6 separate regions of the Homo sapiens genome follow, and regions 2, 3, 4, 5 and 6 are each reported to be linked to region 1. The links are microRNA targets in miRTarBase. Many come from high-throughput screens and were not tested one by one. Region 1 holds a microRNA gene; each other region holds the end of a gene's coding sequence.

Region 1 (3,102 bases):
TCCTCTTAAGGACTTGCTCCCTTTCTGGCACTCTCTCCTACAGGCATCTCAGCTGACACGTATTTCCAGCCTCTATCTGTACGGAATGTAGTGGAGACCACTGCTCTAGAGAACTCATGATTGCAAAGATGAGGTGGGGCTGGTGCGGGGGAGGGGACAGTCAAAGAAAAAGTAGTGCAGAAAGGACAATGAGAAAACAAATGTAGAAGTGTGCAAATTTGGGTTTATAAAAAAGTGACTTTTGGAAGAACAGAAAAGCCACCATACCTGAAGGTTTTCCTCCCTCTCGGGCATTGATCCGAAATGCTGAAGAATTTGGCTTCGAAATCTGTCTCTTAAATTCTGAAACCAGCTGCAGGCTTGAGAGTAAACCAAATCATGAAGCTCTCTGAGATTCTTAATCTCATCTTCATTCTCAACCTAGAAATACAATAGTCAGTAAGACTTCTGTGTCTAATCCCCCGTCCATATGCCATATGCCAACCGACACAAATGGAAAAAGGGATCAGAAGAACAGGGCAATACCTGTTTCAGTGCTGACGTCCCAGAGAGTATTATTCCTATGCTTTAATACACATTTCTGTCTCATATAGGGCTGACCAGACTAAAGAAAGACAACAAGGCCTGACCTATGCCTAACCTTGCTGACTTAGCAGTGCAATATTGCAGAACCCTACAACAGCCCTCAAGTGGGAAGAGTAAGATTGAGAGTGAGTTCTGGTTCAGAGGTCTAATTTGGAATTCCATTTGTCTTTATGGATCAATGGTTTTTGAAAGCAGTGGAACAAAAAAGTGGATGATAGTTGCTACAAAAAAAGAAAAGATAAGTAGTTAGGGTGTAGATGACATGACAGAAAGTAGTAACAGGAGGAGTCCAGGCACAGTTACATCTTTTACTAGGGAACTGGGTCAAAACACAAAAACAAACAAAAAGCTACAACAAATAAGTTAGCATATAAAGCCAGTATGTCAGAGAGTCAATTACACAATGATGAGCTTCTGCTGGCAAGGCCCAAGGCTATGGCTACCTCTGGAACCCCTCAGTGTATTCTTTAGACTACTGGGTCACCAAACTGCAAATGTAAAATTAATTGCATCAGGCTTCCAGCCTGAGATAGAAGAGTAGTCTCAGAGAACACAGGTGGGAAGATCTAAGTTTAACTCATCCATCTTATACTGATTTCTTTAATGCACACTTACATCCCACTTGCTACTTGCCAGGTCGTGCTCTGTCTCATATGCACAAACTCATCTGAAAAAATACCAGGCCTGACTCAGCCTTTCATACTTCAAGGATGACTCATTTAAAAACAACAAAGGGACTCTGAAAACATTTCGAAATATAAAAATAAGACTACAGCACACCAGAGACAAAAAAGCAAACTTTTTACTTTTGAAAGATTTGAAATGAAAACTAAAGTTTAAAGAGCATCTGTTTTTTGCATAACAATGTGAATGTACTTAATGCCACTGTGTGCACTCAAAGATGGTTAAAATGGTAAATTCTATGTATATTTTACCACAATAAAAATAAACTTTTAAAAAAGGTAGAGGAGCCACACAATTGAAGAATTTTGGTCCTGAAATGACTATACATGATTCAGGCCCCTGCTAACATACATTGATAGGAGCAAGAAACAAACTTATGCCTTGTTAAATCTTTTTTTTTTTTTTTTTTAAAGCATCTGCTCTGCACCCTCACAAAATTCAAGAAAACAAATGACAGGCTCTGGTAAACAAGGAATGATAACAATTATAAGCGTCAGTGATGAAAAACGGAGCTGGCCAAAAAGCAGGCAGAGACGCTTTTAAAGTCTCTGCCTGCTTTTTGGCCAGCTCCATTTTAAAAGCAAGCTTTTAAAGTCAAGGAACTTTACTGTGATAATTTTAACAGAACTTAAAATTTCATTAGAAGTCACAGAAAACAGAATTATTATAAGAAGAGGAAAATTTGCCATATAAAACAAATTTGAGAAGGTTTTCCAGAATGGACAAGAAAATCATTATATAGATGAAGACATGATGAGAAAAGATTACTAGACATTCCGAGGACCAAAGAGGACTCGTTTATAAATATCATATCTGTAATACTTTTAGAATGTGATTCTATTGCCTACATGTTTGTAAGTATTAATACATATAGTCATGTAATTTAGCCATATACTCAAGTGATTTTGTCATCAAATCCAATAAGTGAAGACATAAATTTACACAAAACTGAAATATGGTTATTAACTTTACAAAGAAGAACCTTTAGCAAGTGATTCCATTAACCAAGTATGCCTAAGGCACAGATTCTATCAATCAACTCAAAATTTCAACTCACACAATACTTTCGGCCAACTGCACAAGACAAAGTACCCCCATAGCATTTTTATAATAAGATAGGACTGCCAACGTCAGACTAATCAGGTTTATCAACAGAGAGCCAAATGGCATAGTGATAAAGCTCAAAGTCTGAGTCAGACAGTTTGCTTTAATCATTTTTGTTACATTATCTATAGGCTCTCAGGCAAATTAATTAACACCTCTGAATTGTACTTTCCTCATCTACTATTTCATAGAGTTGTGAAAATTCTATGAGTTAATGTTTGTGAAAATACCTAATGCCAATATCCAATAAATGCTGACGAAATGAAGGGCCTAAACAGATCAATGAATAAGAGAAGGGATAAGATCTATGTTTTTATAATGCCTTTCCAAAAGAAATTGCCTTCAATTTGGTATTTGTAGCATCATAAGTCACTTTTCCGGTTCCTAAACTAACTGCAGTAGGTAAACTGGGTATTGCAAACATCAAAAGGGCCACATTAACCCTATTCTAGAAAGACATCACAAAAACCCTACCCTGTTAAGATATCACCAACATGTACACTGGCAGTGCTTTCTATGTCTGCCCCAGGGTCTTCACACAGCATTCAACTCTATTTTATCATTAAGGTTATCTTAGGCACAAGAACAATCTTAATATATAAAACAATTCTTATAAGATTTGATGTGTTTACATTTACATCAAATTTCAATCTACTAATTCCATCGGCTTCAACTACTAATACATTCAATAAAACAGGGCAGAAATGTAAACCTTTCAAAACTTAGATG
Region 2 (3,102 bases), not on the chromosome of region 1:
CTAACTCAAAATCCCCAACAACCCTCGGTCACCTGTGGCTCCAGTCCTGTTTTGGTTTTCCACAGATCACAAAGGCATCAAGGAAGAGGCTCACGGTAAGCCTGGCCTACTCGGAGAGCCACCAGATCCGCGTGTCCCAGCAGGACTTCCGGCTCTTCCGCACCCTCTTCCTCCTCATGGTCTCCTTCTTCATCATGTGGAGCCCCATCATCATCACCATCCTCCTCATCCTGATCCAGAACTTCAAGCAAGACCTGGTCATCTGGCCGTCCCTCTTCTTCTGGGTGGTGGCCTTCACATTTGCTAATTCAGCCCTAAACCCCATCCTCTACAACATGACACTGTGCAGGAATGAGTGGAAGAAAATTTTTTGCTGCTTCTGGTTCCCAGAAAAGGGAGCCATTTTAACAGACACATCTGTCAAAAGAAATGACTTGTCGATTATTTCTGGCTAATTTTTCTTTATAGCCGAGTTTCTCACACCTGGCGAGCTGTGGCATGCTTTTAAACAGAGTTCATTTCCAGTACCCTCCATCAGTGCACCCTGCTTTAAGAAAATGAACCTATGCAAATAGACATCCACAGCGTCGGTAAATTAAGGGGTGATCACCAAGTTTCATAATATTTTCCCTTTATAAAAGGATTTGTTGGCCAGGTGCAGTGGTTCATGCCTGTAATCCCAGCAGTTTGGGAGGCTGAGGTGGGTGGATCACCTGAGGTCAGGAGTTCGAGACCAACCTGACCAACATGGTGAGACCCCCGTCTCTACTAAAAATAAAAAAAAAAATTAGCTGGGAGTGGTGGTGGGCACCTGTAATCCTAGCTACTTGGGAGGCTGAACCAGGAGAATCTCTTGAACCTGGGAGGCAGAGGTTGCAGTGAGCCGAGATCGTGCCATTGCACTCCAACCAGGGCAACAAGAGTGAAACTCCATCTTAAAAAAAAAAAAAAAAAGATTTGTTATGGGTTCCTTTTAAATGTGAACTTTTTTAGTGTGTTTGTAATATGATCAAATTTAATAAATATTTATTTATGACTGTTCAGCAATCACATCTCCTACATATAAAGCCACACCATAGTGGTTTCTGAAGTGAGTCTTAGAACCGATTCAGGACGCAGATTTCTCCTCTGAAGGGTCACAGCCACCCTGTGCCCTACCTTGGACTCGCAAGGGTTTAGGATCATTCGTTGATGTCAAGAGCAATTGAAGAATTTCTAAGGAACAGTTAAAGATGACTTACTTTTTTTTTTTTTTCATTTATAAAAATGCTATGGACCCTTTTAAGAGAATCGGCATCATGAAATGAGAGAGAAAGTAGGATGGCTCTGAAATGTTTGAGAGTGAGTTCAGGAGTGGTTTACTCCTGACGCATCCAGCAGAGATGCCTCTTAAGCACCAGCCATGGCAGACAGTGTCCTTTGTGCTAGGAATACAGTGGTGAACCAGACAGCCATGGCCCTCTCTCAGGGAACTTACCTTCGAGTCAGGGGCAGAAAAACTAAATAAAAGTCAATAAACTATATCTATATACAGATACCTATATATTTGAGATGAGGGTCTTGCTCCAATGCCCAGGCTGGAGTGCAACGGCACAATCACGGCTCCCTGAAGCCTCAAATGCCTTGGCTCAAGCAATCCTCCCGCCTCAGCCTCCCAAGTAGCTGGGATTACAGGCGTGAGCCGCCACGCCTGGCTACAAGTCAATAAATAGTATAGCATCACAGAGCGAATAAGCACTGTGAAGAAAATGGGACGGGGGCTATGGTAGTGATGGGAATTTAGATCAGATGGGGAGGGGCCTAAGGAGACCTTTCTGAGGAGTGACAAATTGGATCAAAAGGTAAGCGACAAGAAAGGGCCACCTGTGTGAATGGGGGAAGGGACACAGAAGAGATGTTAGTGCAAGGAGGCTGACACGCTTGAAGGGAGAGTGGCGTAAGCCGACTATTGATGGAGCCTCCTCTGCACTAGGCACTGCCTTTAATGCTGAGATGAGGGGTACCCGGCTGGGGCCTGTCAGTTGAGGCCAGAGAAATTGCAGGGTTAGATCACATAGGGCCTAGGAGTTTATTCTGTTCTCCAAGCCCCTGGAGGTTGGCAACTGGAGGCTGACGTGACCTGATGAATGTGTGCAAAGATTACCCTGGCTGCTGGGCAGGGAATAGACTCTGAGGAGCATGAGTGAAAATGGAGACCAGTTGGGCAGCTGCTGAAGTGTGACATGGGGATGGGACCTTGGAGGTGAGTGGCATTAGGGAGGGATTGTGAGAAATGACTTGTAAATATACCTTGGGAAGGTAAAACAAAGATGATTTATTGATGGGAAGGATGGAATTGATAGAATGTGAGGGAAAGGGAGAACTCAAGGGGAATACTCTGATTTTTTAGCCTGTCATTGGTTGGATGGTGAAGCAGGCAACAAAAATGGGGGGGCCTGGGCAAAGATTAGGGGGGGGGGAGCCAAGAGTTTCATTTGGAGCTCATCAGTTTGAAATCTCAGTGAGACTTCCAAATTGAATAGGCAGTTGGATGCAGAGATGTGGAGCTTGGGCCTGGAGATGCACATTGTTTGGAGATATAAATGGTGTTTATAGACCTATGGTTTTATAATACATCCCTTGGAGAGATAGAGAGAAACCAGAGCCAAAGACCGAACCCAGGGTCACTCCACCACTTGGAGGCTGGGCCAGTGGCTGGAATGCACAGCAGCACGGGGCCTGGTGTATAGTAGGTGTTCAACAAATCTTTGTTGCTGAGGAAATCAGCACCAGCAGTAGTGACTGCTTATGCAGTTTCTGGAGCAGCTTGCTTCTGAAGTCAGATTCATGGATATCACAAGCTCGAAGACAAACGAACAGAGATGTTTTGCTCACTTTAGTTAATAGATTTGATCAATTAAACCTGTTTTTGGAAGTGATGTGTGGCTATCTTATTGAAGCGGCATTGCTGTCTGGGGTAAATAACCGGGGTTTGTCATCTTGCGCCAAGAGGATTAAGGACACGGACATATGTGGGTGGGTTAAGGAACAGAATGTTTAATAGGCAGAAGAAAGGAGAGAGGAGAGCAGCTCTCTCTCTCGTGAGACAGAGGCATCTGAAAA
Region 3 (3,102 bases), not on the chromosome of region 1:
GGGCTGGGTTCCCCACGTTCATTCAGAAGCCTTGTCCTGGGATCCCAGTCCGTGGGGAGGACACATCCTCCCCTGGGAGCTCTTTGTCCCTCCTCACGGCTGCTTCCCCACTGCCTCCCCAGACAAGGCCCCACTGCAGAAGGTTTCCCTGGCCCCAAACTCTCGCTACTACCTGAGCTGCCCCATGGAATCCCGCCACGCCACCTACTCATGGCGCCACAAGGAGAACGTGGAGCAGAGCTGCGAACCTGGTCACCAGAGCCCCAACTGCATCCTGTTCATCGAGAACCTCACGGCGCAGCAGTACGGCCACTACTTCTGCGAGGCCCAGGAGGGCTCCTACTTCCGCGAGGCTCAGCACTGGCAGCTGCTGCCCGAGGACGGCATCATGGCCGAGCACCTGCTGGGTCATGCCTGTGCCCTGGCCGCCTCCCTCTGGCTGGGGGTGCTGCCCACACTCACTCTTGGCTTGCTGGTCCACTAGGGCCTCCCGAGGCTGGGCATGCCTCAGGCTTCTGCAGCCCAGGGCACTAGAACGTCTCACACTCAGAGCCGGCTGGCCCGGGAGCTCCTTGCCTGCCACTTCTTCCAGGGGACAGAATAACCCAGTGGAGGATGCCAGGCCTGGAGACGTCCAGCCGCAGGCGGCTGCTGGGCCCCAGGTGGCGCACGGATGGTGAGGGGCTGAGAATGAGGGCACCGACTGTGAAGCTGGGGCATCGATGACCCAAGACTTTATCTTCTGGAAAATATTTTTCAGACTCCTCAAACTTGACTAAATGCAGCGATGCTCCCAGCCCAAGAGCCCATGGGTCGGGGAGTGGGTTTGGATAGGAGAGCTGGGACTCCATCTCGACCCTGGGGCTGAGGCCTGAGTCCTTCTGGACTCTTGGTACCCACATTGCCTCCTTCCCCTCCCTCTCTCATGGCTGGGTGGCTGGTGTTCCTGAAGACCCAGGGCTACCCTCTGTCCAGCCCTGTCCTCTGCAGCTCCCTCTCTGGTCCTGGGTCCCACAGGACAGCCGCCTTGCATGTTTATTGAAGGATGTTTGCTTTCCGGACGGAAGGACGGAAAAAGCTCTATTTTTATGTTAGGCTTATTTCATGTATAGCTACTTCCGACTGCATCTGTATGAAAATACCAAAACTACATGCGGGGGGGTGGGTGGGAAAGGGAGGGGCTGGGAAGGGATGGGTTGGGGAGCGGGGGTGATCCCAGTCTGAGGCTCCCGGGGATGAGATAAGAGTCTGGAGACGGGCATGGGTTCTTGGAGAGTGGCATGAGCTGGCTCTGCCCTGGGAGCCCGGTCTGAGGGGGACGTTGTTGGAGCCCCTAGTGTTGGGGGTGGTTATGGGAGGGGGTGGGGTGAGGGAAACGGGAGAATGAAGGAGAAAACTGAGCCCTAGTTTCACCGTGTTCATTTGGAAGGACGAGCCGGGTCCTCAGGGGGAGGTTCCAGGACTCTGCCCTTGGCGTTGAGGGTTGGGGGGCGGGGGGCCTCCTCCCTTCCTCTCAGCCCCCTTCCCCAGGGGCTGTGCTTCCATGCTCCTAGCCTCCCACCTTCGCTCAGGACATGTTATAACTTAGGCTAAACTGTGAAAATTCCGGTGGGGATGGCCTGGGCCGAGCTCTCCAGGCAGGCGGCCCTGCCCCCAGCCCTGTCCATCCATTTCAGGGGGGAGCTGGGCCCTTCTCCGGCTGTGTCTGGCCACCCAGGGCAGTGGCTGGGGCCAGTGGCCTTCCAGCTTTGGCCCCTGCACCTCTTCTCAATGCACTTTAATAATGTAACATATTACTAATAAACAAGCTATTTATTTACCTGCGCCTGTTCCTTGCCTGCAAAGCTGTCCTGGTCAGGGGGTGTTGGTGGGGGCTCCTGTTTATTACTCGCCACCCCCTGGCTGCGTGAGCATCACATGCATTCTTTCATGTCCTGGTTAGGGCCCAGGAGCCAGCTCAGCAGGGCTGTAGCTAGTGAGAGGCAGGAATGGGGACCTGAACCCACGACTCCTCAGCAGCGTGCTGCTTGCTCGAGCCTTGACCCCAGAGCCCCAATAGCACGTGCACCCCTTTTCCCCATTCCCAGCCTTCACCTCCCACCACTTCCCCCTGGAAGGCCTGGCCTGGGTCATGCTAGAAACAGCCTCAGGACTCCCTGCCTTCAAGGGGCAGTTCTGGAGGGCAAGCTGATCAAATGCGACCCTGTGGGATGCTGTGGCCTTGAGTGTGTGTGCAGGAGGCTGGTGCCGGCTGAAGAGATGTGGGAATGGGATTTGCTCCAGGCAGGGTAGGGGTCTGGGTGAGGGTTGGAGAGTAGGGAGGGACCTGTGGGGAGGGTTTATGAGTGATGAGGTAGGATTTGAGTTGTAGAAACTCAGGACTCCCTCCAAGATCAAGTAAATAGGTTTTAGAACACAGAAGTTTATGCAGGAAGGAGCCTCTGAGGCTGGGGTGGAAGGATGCAGGGGAGTTAGTTAGGAGGCTGTCTGGTGGCGGGTGGAGGTCAGGATGAGAGCAGTGGTCCTGGGATGAAGGGCAGGGACAGTAGGGAGCACTGCAGATAGAAGTCCAGATAGAAGCCCAGAGGCCTCCCCTCCCCCTTGTTCCCTTCTCTGTCCCCTGTCCCTGGAGGCAAGGACCTAGGCCTTTGGGGTCTGCTAGGCGTTTTTCCTGAGCAGTGACTGCTGGAGGGGTCCATGGCAGACTTGGGGCAGTTTACTTCTCTGTCCGAGCCCAGCTTCTGGTTGGCTCTGGCAAACCCCACAGGACTGGAATTGCCCCCACCCATAGTGCTCCCTCCCACTTCAGTTTGCTCTGCACTCTCATAGCCAGCCCATTCCTGAGGATTCTCCCCATCCTTTTCTCCCCCAACACTCGGCATGCCCTGGGGGACCAAGGTCTCAGCAGGTACATGGGACCAGGGGTCTTTGGGAGTTTGGGGGACCCAGAAGAGCCCTGGGCAGCTGGGGCAGAGACCTGGGGCTGCTGCCACCATTTTTGGCGTTTGTGGTCCTGGGCAGACCCTCGCCTTTCCCGAGCCTCATTTCTCTCCTGTGTAAAAGGCAGGGCTGGACCTGGGCTTCTGTGGACCCTTTCCTGCA
Region 4 (3,102 bases), not on the chromosome of region 1:
CCAGGATGGTCTCCATCTCCTGACCTCGTGATCCGCCCGTCTCGGCCTCCCAAAGTGCTGGGATTACAGGCGTGAGCCACCGCGCCCGGTCCATTCTCACCTTTTCTAAGTATATTTAAACTTCCAATTTTCCTTCCCAGGGCCATGCTTTCCCCTTGATTTCTTTGATTCCCTAGAATTTTAACTTGAATTGTGCTCAAGCCAGGTTATTTACGTCATCTAGGCTATCTTAGCAAAGAGCTTTAGAGAAGCTGGATGATCTGAGGCAGAAGTTTGCTCACAGGTTTCTCCTTTTTTTCTGCTAGGCTTGTGGAATATACCCGTGCTGATGGCACAGTTGGCCGAAGAGTGAAGCCCTACATCATTGACCTTGGCTCAGGCAATGGAACCTTCTTAAACAACAAACGTATTGAGCCACAGAGATACTATGAACTAAAAGAAAAGGATGTACTCAAATTTGGATTCAGTAGCAGAGAATACGTCTTGCTCCATGAGTCGTCGGACACTTCTGAAATAGACAGGAAAGATGACGAGGATGAGGAGGAGGAGGAAGAAGTGTCTGACAGCTAGCAAACTAAGAACCCAAACTATTGATACACGGTTTCCTTCTTGGAAGTCTTTGATTGACTCAGAGAGCACTATGGTGGTGGGTCCAGCACTATGGTGCTCTCTGTAATGCCTCTTACTGCCTTAAGTCTTTCCTCTGTTGCTGACCAGATTGTGTTACCATTTGAATACACTGACTAATGTTTGTTAAACTTTTTCTGTGGCACCTTGGCCACATGCCTGCAGGCATTTGTTTTCAGAACAGTCTCACCAATTACAACACACCGTGTTTTAGTAGAAGTGTTGTGGTTTTAGTTGGTGCTTTCAGAACTGCTGCCTAGGAAACTATAAACCCTTGGTTAAGGGGAAATCATGGCTTGTTCTCTTTGTACAGTTACTTTATTTATATAGGTGTTAAGCTTTGTGGACCAGGTGTTTTTCTTTTGGGGCGAACCCCTGAGCAGAGAATCTTACTAGGCTTTGGTTATCACCAAAACAACCTCCAGTATATACCAAAGCTTTGACTTGTTTGAGCTCTTGAGCTTAGAAGTTGATTTTGCACTTATTTTTTTGGGGGGTGGGAATGTACTGCAGTCAGTAAACATTATTGACTGTTTAACTTAAACAGATGCTTTATGGCACCTGCTCAAGCCCGTGACTGTACAGAAGGATCCTGGTTGCTACCAGTGGGTGCTGATTCAGCATCACAAGTGACTGAAATTGGCTGTGGATCTGTTCTTTGTGAAAGAATTCCTGATTTCTCCATGGAGCATGTACACAACAATTTTGATCATATTAACTGTACTTCAGTTTTGCATTTTTATTCAAATGTTATCTCTTTTTTTCTTTGAGAAATAAACTGTCACTGATGTGACAGCGTTCTTTCTTTATTCTAATAACATGTATAGATCTAAAGCAGGTTGTGTTGTTTACATGTTTCTACACATTTCATCCTTTAAAAAGTTGTTGAGAGAGGTTGTATTTACCTTCCCAAGGTTGGAAAGCAGGGGAATTTCCCAGTGTCCTAGTTTTCCACCAGAGGAATATGTGTAAGTAGCAAAGTATTTGCTGCTTACATATAGTGTGTATGTATGTATATATGTAAATTGTGTGTTAAAGAGCTGATACTGATTTTCATATGACAATGTTAGGCAAAGGCCTCCCTGCATTTGAAGAGCAGGTTTTCATTTATATGTATTTTTGGGATAAAAAAATAAAATTTGTAAATATAGCCCCATTTCAAAGAGTAATGCTTTCCTAGCGTAGAGGACCTTGTGTTCATAGGTCTGTTTGCTGCTAATGGAGCCTTCTGTCAGTACTTTTGAGATAAAAGTAGGTAGCTGTTTTAGAGTGTTGTGGGGCAGGTTATATCGTTGGCCTCCAAGTCAGTGGAATAGCAGATGGTGACATGGAGGTGGGTTGTGGGGAAAGGTGGTGAAGCAGCTCAATCAGTGTTACTACTAATTGTTCCTCTTGGGTTGAGACTTAGGATACTATTAAATTTGATTGTTTTCCATTGTTTTTATACCCATGTGTGCTCAGGGCTAAAGATTGGCTAGTGGGAGGGGCAGCTGACTAATGTTCATTCAGAAGAAGTTAAAAGATCCTTTGAAAAGTGAACACTTAATAAGGTCATTAGATGAAACGTAAGTTGGGCCGGGCATGGGCACAGTGGCTCATGCCTGTAATCCCAACACTTTCGGAGGCTGAGGTGGGCAGATCATCTGAGGTCAGGAGTTCAAGACCAACCTGGCCAACATGGTGAAACCCCATCTCTACTAAAAATACAAAAATTAGCTGGGCGTGGTGGCACATGCCTGTTTTAATCCCAGCTACTCGGGAGGCTGAGGCAGGAGAATCGCTTGAACCCGGGAGGTGGAGGTTGCAGCGAGCTGAGATTGTGCCACTGCACTCCAGCCTGGGTGACAGCGAGACTCTGTCTCAGAAAAAAAAAAAAAAGGTAAGTTGAAGAATGTGTTCTACATTGGCCACTGTAACTGCTATTTTCTTCATTTTGGTATGTGCCATAGATCATATATATGTGCTTGTCTGAAAAGTAGGTTTGTTTGGATGAACTTTTCTCTTGATCCAGACTGACGGTTTTCTCTTGAGGGTTTAAGCACTAATCTGGTATCTTACTCTAGGATCTCCTTGTTCAGTCTGTGCTGCAGTAGCACTACTTTGTGGTAGCCTTGAGTTTTGCTACAAACTTCATCCTGGTGGGCACTGTGATAGATGACCACTTTGCCTACATTTTTCAGTAAGAAGTCCTAATTGTTTAGTCAGTTTTTATTTTAGTAGAGGAATAACGTCCTGGATTAAGAAATTCTTTATGCCACATATCTGAGAAGGTGGGTTTTTTTGTTGGTTTGTTTGTTTTGAGATGGCGTCTCACTCTGTCGCCCAGGCTGGAGTGCAGTGGCACCATCTTGGCTCACTGCAACCTCCGCCTCCCAGTTTCAAGCGATTCTCCTGCCTCAGCCTCCCAAGTAGCTGGGACTACAGGCACCTGTCACCAAGCCTGGCTAATTTATATATATAATTTTTATTTTTTAT
Region 5 (3,102 bases), not on the chromosome of region 1:
AATCTGTTTTCACATTGTACATAAAAATGATATAAAAACAAGTGTCTATTTTTTCCTTATCCAGAGTGCTTAAAAACAAAACAAACAAAAACAAAAAAAAATTGGCTCTAGATGACTGTGGCAATTAAATAACTAAAATGAGTGATGAGAGCATAAGTTAATTAAGATTGAACACGACCCTCCTATTAATTCACTCCTTTGTTTTAAACATCAGAACTGATATTGTTGGGGCCAAAATTCTTAAAAAAGAGAAAACTTACGGAAAGAGAAGTAAAATTGTGGGTAAATGTGTGTGTGTGTGTGTATATGTGTGTATATATATGTATATATATATATACATATACATACATATATGAGTTGGAGATGGAAATTTGTTTTAAATATCTAACAGCTTATTGGCTGCACTTCCAAATCAGAGCAGAATAAAATAGAAAGGGAGAAATAAAATAAATTATACATAACTTACTAATCTGGGAACAGCTGACCATTATTATTATTATTACTATTATTATTATTATTTTATCATCATCATCATTACAACACTAGCAAAAAGAGGCAGTTCAAATGTAAATAAAGTCATCAAAAACAAACAAACAGAAAAACAAACAAAATGAAATCTCTGACATGCAGGATATGATCAGCTCCTCCAAGCAAAACCCCAGAGCAAGTCTTCTGAGAGAGAGAAAAATAAAAGGGATTCTTTTTTTATTTATATGTAAAAATCCAACTTTAGGGTGGTGTTTCGGGGGGTGAGATAGGAAAATGATGACTGGAGTGAAAACTATAGCACATCAAGCTACTAGTTGCAGTATTTACTATCTATCTGATACTTCAATACAAATAATGGCAATTGACTTGAAATGATTTTGCATTTATTTGTACAGGCCCTACAACTGCCTTGGCATTTGGCTGGCAAAATCTACATAAGCAGTCCCATCACATTCAGTTGTTGCTCTTTGCAAATACTCTGCTTGAACCAAAGTTGGACTTCAGTGGATTAATCTGACAGCAAGGGAAGAGCAGTGGCAAGGATCCCTGGGTGCAGCCAGGCTCCATTTTATTGGGCTGCAATGACTTTTAATTAAATCCTACTTTTTATGGCATGAACTACATATGGCCCACACTTCTGAAATGCTAAAGGCCTCCACCTCACTTCATGGAGGGGTGAAAAATACCTTATAAAATCATCAGTTTCATTTCCTGATCGGGAAAGGATGGAATGTTGAAGAAATAAGCTAATTCTATTTGTCTGAAAAAATGGCCAAATATATTCAATGAAAACAATGATTGTTTTGCTCAAAATATCAACAGGAAAAACAAAAATCACTAAGTAGCAAACGTTAATGGAACCAACTGACCAGGGAGAAAGGACATCTGGGAGCAGTTTGCTAGTAGCTTCCATGTTATACATGCACACCTCTATTACACAGGGCCACCTGATCCATCCAATAATAATCAGACATTTAAAAATATAATTTCTGAGCCCTATACTTGGTTAAGTTGTCATTTGAAGTGCAAAGTCAAGGTCAAGATTATTTCTAGACCAGTCACTTGGGAGGATGTGGGATTTCATCCCCAGATGTGGGTTTAACTCACAATGGTCCAACGTTATTCCTATTATTAGTACCATAATCACATACATACATACACACAAAAATCCAAGATCAGAAAATATTTTTCTCTAAATTTCTTATGTCTCTCTCTCTCTCTCTCTTTTCACCTGAGAACAGCACCTACAGTTTCCATTAAAAAAAAAAGTCAAATCTCACCAGCTGCTGGTATTTCAGGTTTTTCAAGGGATTGTCTAAGATTTAACACTGTCCTAACTTAAGAAGGAAAAGGAAAAAGTAAAGAGAAAAAATGAACTTGGTCAACACTTCAGTACAAATTTGGCACTTGCTCAAAGATGTAGTGTGGTGTGCAATAGATAAAGTCCTCTAAAGAAAATAATTGCTTATTTTGTGGTGGATAGCAAGGAAGTTAAAAACAGGCTCTTTTTCCCTCTTTCCCCTCATGCACAGACTTCCATCTTTAAAGTAGAGAGATGGAGAAGGTGGAGAGAAGTAAAGAGAAATTCATTTTTCTTTTTTTTCTGTCAGGTGCATTACAAAGAAAAAAAATGAAAGGAAAGAAAAAGAAAAGGAAAAAACCCAGAAACCCCAAAAAACAAAACAAAACTTTTTTCTTTTTAAAAATTGTAGCACAAAACAACAAAACACATTCACAAGCCACTTGTTGGCACTGTGTACCTGAGTGAGAATTTCTAGAACATTGTAGAACAAACAGCCATAAAGTTTATTTAAAAAAAAAAAAAAGTTGACGGGTAAGACTTCAGTGCTTGGATGTAGCAGCTGAATTACTGGCATTATTTTACCCATAGCTTATTTCAATCTCTTGTTGTTGATATTGTTGTTTGCTTGTTGTATTTGTTTTTTCTTTCCAAGCCTTTTGAGGCTGAGGTCTATTAGTCAGCTGATGTCCCAACTATTTAAGACTAACAGTTAAAGTAACAGTCAGTGTATGAGAAAGTTAATGTGCTTGGCCACTGGTAAGGATGAACCAGTTAGGGCTTCTTTAAGTCCTAAGGTCACAACAATCTTTTGACCCTTATCAGTTGGCTTGTCCTGCAATATGGTTTTCACTGTCACTCCCATAATCTACATCTGGATCATCCTCTTCCTCGTCGTACTCATCATAAATTTCTCCATTGATGTCCTCGGCCTGTATCTCTTCTTTGATATGTGGCTCCTCTCCTTTCACACCGTAAGTGCTCTGGATAACAGGCATCCCAGGCTCTGGGCTGCTAGACACGCTTGAGTGCTCCGAGGGCAGGTGAGGGGAGGGCATCCCAGCCATGGCGATGGCTCCAGGGTACACAACACCAGCAGTGGCAATGGGGATCTGTGCTTGTTGCCTGTCAAGAAAGGAATTTCCAAAAAGACATCGTGGGTAAGTGAATAGTTAGATGTGGACTTTACTACATAATTAATTTGCTCAGCAATGTCCAATTCTAAGGTACTAATTTTATCTAATTGCCTAACATTTTTCAAACTCCATCCTACTTGAACTTTAATACCTTGTTTTTCTTTTCTTTTCTTTTTT
Region 6 (3,102 bases), not on the chromosome of region 1:
CTCGGCTCACTGCAACCTCTGCCGCCAGGGTTCAGGCAATTCTCCTGCCTCAGCCTCCCAAGTAGCTGGGATTTAAAAAAAAAAAAAAAAGAAAGAAAGAAAGAAAGAAAGAAAGAAAAGCTGAGTAGCTGTCTAAAAAAAAAAAAAAAGAAAGAAAAATAAAAAAGATTTTCTCAGCCCCAAAGCCTGAGGCTCACCCCTAGGACAGGGCACCCTGTTAACACTGGCAGGAAAACGACACCATTTATTCCGACGTCTGCGTCTGTAGTTTTATTCCGTATCTGGCTGGGGGAGGGTGGTCTCCGAGGTGGATGGAGTGAGGGTGGAGGGGACAGAGATGGTCCCTGCTCCCACCTCCCCGAGCCCACCTGGGAAGCTGCGTGGCCGGGCTGCTGGAGACATCCCGAGCCCTGGGGGAGACAGAGGTGTGGGTGTTTGGGCTTCATCTTCCAGGTACAAGGAGATACATTTCATCAAGCAGTTCCTGATTTCATGGAGTTCTTTGAGGGCTCGGCTGGGAGGTCCCTCTCCGGGGGGCTCCAAGTGCCGGACCTGGTGGTTTCTGGAAGGATCAAGGACAAGTCCTGGGAGTTTCAGGCTTCGGCAGTAACAGTGTGTTAATTGCACTTGTTCGATTTTCTGGCAGAAGCCAGGAGAGACGGGGACAGCGTGCTTCTCTTCGGTGACCATCCCAGGCGCCCAGAGGTGACCAGACTTCTGTGTGGTCTGGGACAGTGCAGGGCTCAGGCAGGAAGGACCACTGTGGTGAAAGGCCACTGACAATTCTGGTGAGGAGTAGGGTGGCAGGGGTTCAGCCAGGGAGAGGAGGTGGCTGCCTTTTCTCAGGGCCCTGCTCTCACCTTCCAAAGGTCTAGGGTACACAGAACTCATGGATTTTGGTCTCGCAGCCCCAGGGGCCACACAGAAAAAGGGGTTCAACTGGAAGTTTGCAGCATCTGGGAAAGGCCAATTCTGGCAGAACTGGAAGATTCCAGACCAGGGGAGAGGCGTCCAGGGAGAGAAGAGTCCTGCTTGGGTTGATCATAAGCAAAGTGGACATCGTTCCGAAGAGGCAGAGAGCTCACTATGTTATCGATAAAAAAATTCTTGGCCGGGCACAGTGGCTCACGCCTGTAATCCCAGCACTTTGGGAGGCTGAGGCTGGTGGATCACAAGGTCAGGAGATCAAGACCATCCTGGCTAACACGGTGAAACCCTGTCTCTACTAAAATACAAAAAAATTAGCCGGGTGTGACGGTGGGTGCCTGTAGTCCCAGCTGCTGGGGAGGCTGAGGCAGGAGAATGGCGTGAATCTGGGAGGCGGAGCTTGCAGTGAGCCGAGATCCCACCACTGCACTCCAGCCTGGTTAGGCCGGGTGCAGTAGCTCATGCCTGTAATCCCAGCACTTTTGGAGGCCAAGGTAGGCGGATCACCTGAAGTCAGGAGTTTGAGACCAGCCTGGCCAACATGGTGAAATCTTGTCTCTACTAAAACTACAATAATTTCCTGGGCGTGGTGGCGCACACCTGTAATCCCAGCTACTTGGGAGGCTGAAGCAGGAGAATCACTTGAACCCAGGAGGTGGAGGATGCAGTGAGCCGAGATTGTGCCACTGGACTCCAGTCTGGGCGACAGTGGGAGACTCCGTTCAAAAAAAATAAAAATCTCAAGATGGTTGTAAATGTGACTATAAAAATCAAACCCTTTATGATACACAAAGGGGCCCTTAGGAAATGAGTCAGAAGCCGGGGTGCAGGACGTGGGGTCCCAGGAGTCCAGGAAGCCCTGGATACAGTCAGCTGAATGTTTCGGAAGAACGGAAGAAGCAGAGTGCATTGAGGAAGAGAGAGGGCTGGGTGCGGTGGCTCACCCCTGTGATTCCAGCACTTTGGGAGGCCGAGGATGGAGGATCACTGGAGGCCAGGAGTTCAGCGAGACCCCTGTCTCTAGTATGACCAAAAAAAAAAAAATCTGTAGAAAAATGGAAGAGATTGGGGAGGGAGGAAAGAGGCTGCCTGGGTCCAGGTTGTGCCTCTGTGTGAAGAGACACCAGCGGCTGCCAGTGGGGAGTGCGGAGTAAAGGCCTGCGGGAGGAGATGTCCGCTCTCAGGGGCTCGGAAGCCCCTCAGCCTCTTGCCTCCCCAACGGGAGACATGTAGGAGGCCGAGCAAGCTGGGTGCCCTTGAGAGACAGGCCCAGGCAGGGCTGTGGCCACAGCAGCCCTGGGGGCTCCCCAGCGAGGTGGAGGCAGAAGTTCCAGGAGCCTGGGAGCCACCCAGGGCAAGGAGTGACCCTGGAAGCCATCCAGCCTCCTGGAAAGTGGAAGTGGTTTAAAAACACAGTGGGCTTTTCCGGTTGCTAGTAACACATAGAATTACAGAGTTCACGTTTTAGTCCCAGACGGGAGACTGAGGCTCGAGACTGAGGAAGGCATCTGCCGTCCGGGGTTGGAGCTCCTGAGGACCAACACCTGCTCAGCGGCTCGGCCCCTGGTCTCCCTGAGATGCTCAGGCCGGAGAGAAGCGGGATGATGGTTCCAGAGCGTCCTCCTCCAAGTCTCCGAGGCCCCAGCGGCGGTTCGGGCACCGGGAGACCCGCGGGGCTCTCAGTGGCACATCCGGGCGGTCATTTCTTTCTGTAAAGAGCAAGCAAGACATCAGCTCCCACCAGCCACTCCTAAAAGGGGTGATGCGAACAGCAGACACACGGAGACGCACAGGCAGAGAAACGGCAGCTGGGGGCTTCCCTGAACACCCAAACAACAAAAACCACACAGGCAATGGCACACCTGAGACCAGGGGCAGCAGGCTACCCCATGAGGCCAGAGAGTCAGCATTTTCAGATCTGTGGGCCAGACGGTCCCTGTCATGATGGCTCAACTCTGTCTTGTACCTCAAAAGCCACCTCAGACGATGGTAACCTCACAAGTGTACCTCGCTGCCAATAAAACTGTATTTACAGCCAGGCTTGGTGGCTCACGCCTGTAATCCCAGCACTTTGGGAGGCAGAGGTAGGCAGATCACCTGAGGTCAGGAGTTCAAGACCAGCCTGGATAACACGGTGAAATCCTGTCTCTACTAAAAATATAGAAATTAGCCTGG

The links. The annotated mature microRNA hsa-miR-3926 reads UGGCCAAAAAGCAGGCAGAGA and lies in region 1 at 1,783-1,803, shown strand. An mRNA with a match to its seed (bases 2 to 7 or 8) in the 3' UTR can be bound and repressed. Matches are read on the target gene's strand: a 7mer-m8 pairs with bases 2 to 8, a 7mer-A1 pairs with bases 2 to 7 and ends in A, and an 8mer does both.
Region 2: miRTarBase lists FFAR4 as a target of hsa-miR-3926. Seed matches in the 3' UTR shown: 7mer-A1 at 648-654.
Region 3: miRTarBase lists SEMA7A as a target of hsa-miR-3926. Seed matches in the 3' UTR shown: 7mer-m8 at 1,748-1,754.
Region 4: the mRNA of SNIP1 is a reported target of hsa-miR-3926. Seed matches in the 3' UTR shown: 7mer-A1 at 775-781 and 7mer-A1 at 2,531-2,537.
Region 5: miRTarBase lists SOX5 as a target of hsa-miR-3926. Seed matches in the 3' UTR shown: 8mer at 1,259-1,266 and 7mer-m8 at 230-236.
Region 6: miRTarBase lists MOB3A as a target of hsa-miR-3926. Seed matches in the 3' UTR shown: 7mer-A1 at 1,461-1,467.

The regions. Positions count from the first base shown.
Region 1 is chr8:12,725,460-12,728,561 of GRCh38, forward strand. It overlaps MIR3926-2 (microRNA 3926-2), which reads left to right and starts at 1,778; the gene lies at 1,778-1,840. It overlaps LONRF1 (LON peptidase N-terminal domain and ring finger 1), which reads right to left. Exons shown (of 12, transcript NM_152271.5): 11 at 268-420. MIR3926-1 (microRNA 3926-1) reads right to left here and starts at 1,845; the gene lies at 1,773-1,845. RefSeq lists an enhancer at 1,343-1,392.
Region 2 is chr10:93,587,155-93,590,256 of GRCh38, forward strand. It overlaps FFAR4 (free fatty acid receptor 4), which reads left to right. Exons shown (of 3, transcript NM_001195755.2): 3 at 66-2,918. The coding sequence ends at 455. Among named protein-coding and RNA genes, the nearest start is that of RBP4, 13 kb to the right of the region's middle.
Region 3 is chr15:74,408,006-74,411,107 of GRCh38, reverse strand. It overlaps SEMA7A (semaphorin 7A (JohnMiltonHagen blood group)), which reads left to right. Exons shown (of 14, transcript NM_003612.5): 14 at 123-1,819. The coding sequence ends at 484. Among named protein-coding and RNA genes, the nearest start is that of MIR6881, 1.9 kb to the left of the region's middle. RefSeq lists enhancers at 1,465-1,724, 1,368-1,868.
Region 4 is chr1:37,535,216-37,538,317 of GRCh38, reverse strand. It overlaps SNIP1 (Smad nuclear interacting protein 1), which reads left to right. Exons shown (of 4, transcript NM_024700.4): 4 at 306-3,102. The coding sequence ends at 570. All of the region lies in intron 2 of LOC105378649 (a long non-coding RNA gene), which reads right to left. Among named protein-coding and RNA genes, the nearest start is that of SNIP1, 18 kb to the left of the region's middle.
Region 5 is chr12:23,531,609-23,534,710 of GRCh38, forward strand. SOX5 (SRY-box transcription factor 5) reads right to left here. Exons shown (of 15, transcript NM_006940.6): 15 at 1-2,914. The coding sequence ends at 2,611. Among named protein-coding and RNA genes, the nearest start is that of SOX5, 420 kb to the right of the region's middle.
Region 6 is chr19:2,070,789-2,073,890 of GRCh38, forward strand. It overlaps MOB3A (MOB kinase activator 3A), which reads right to left. Exons shown (of 5, transcript NM_130807.3): 5 at 248-2,636. The coding sequence ends at 2,607. Among named protein-coding and RNA genes, the nearest start is that of MKNK2, 21 kb to the left of the region's middle. RefSeq lists enhancers at 957-1,006, 1,037-1,086.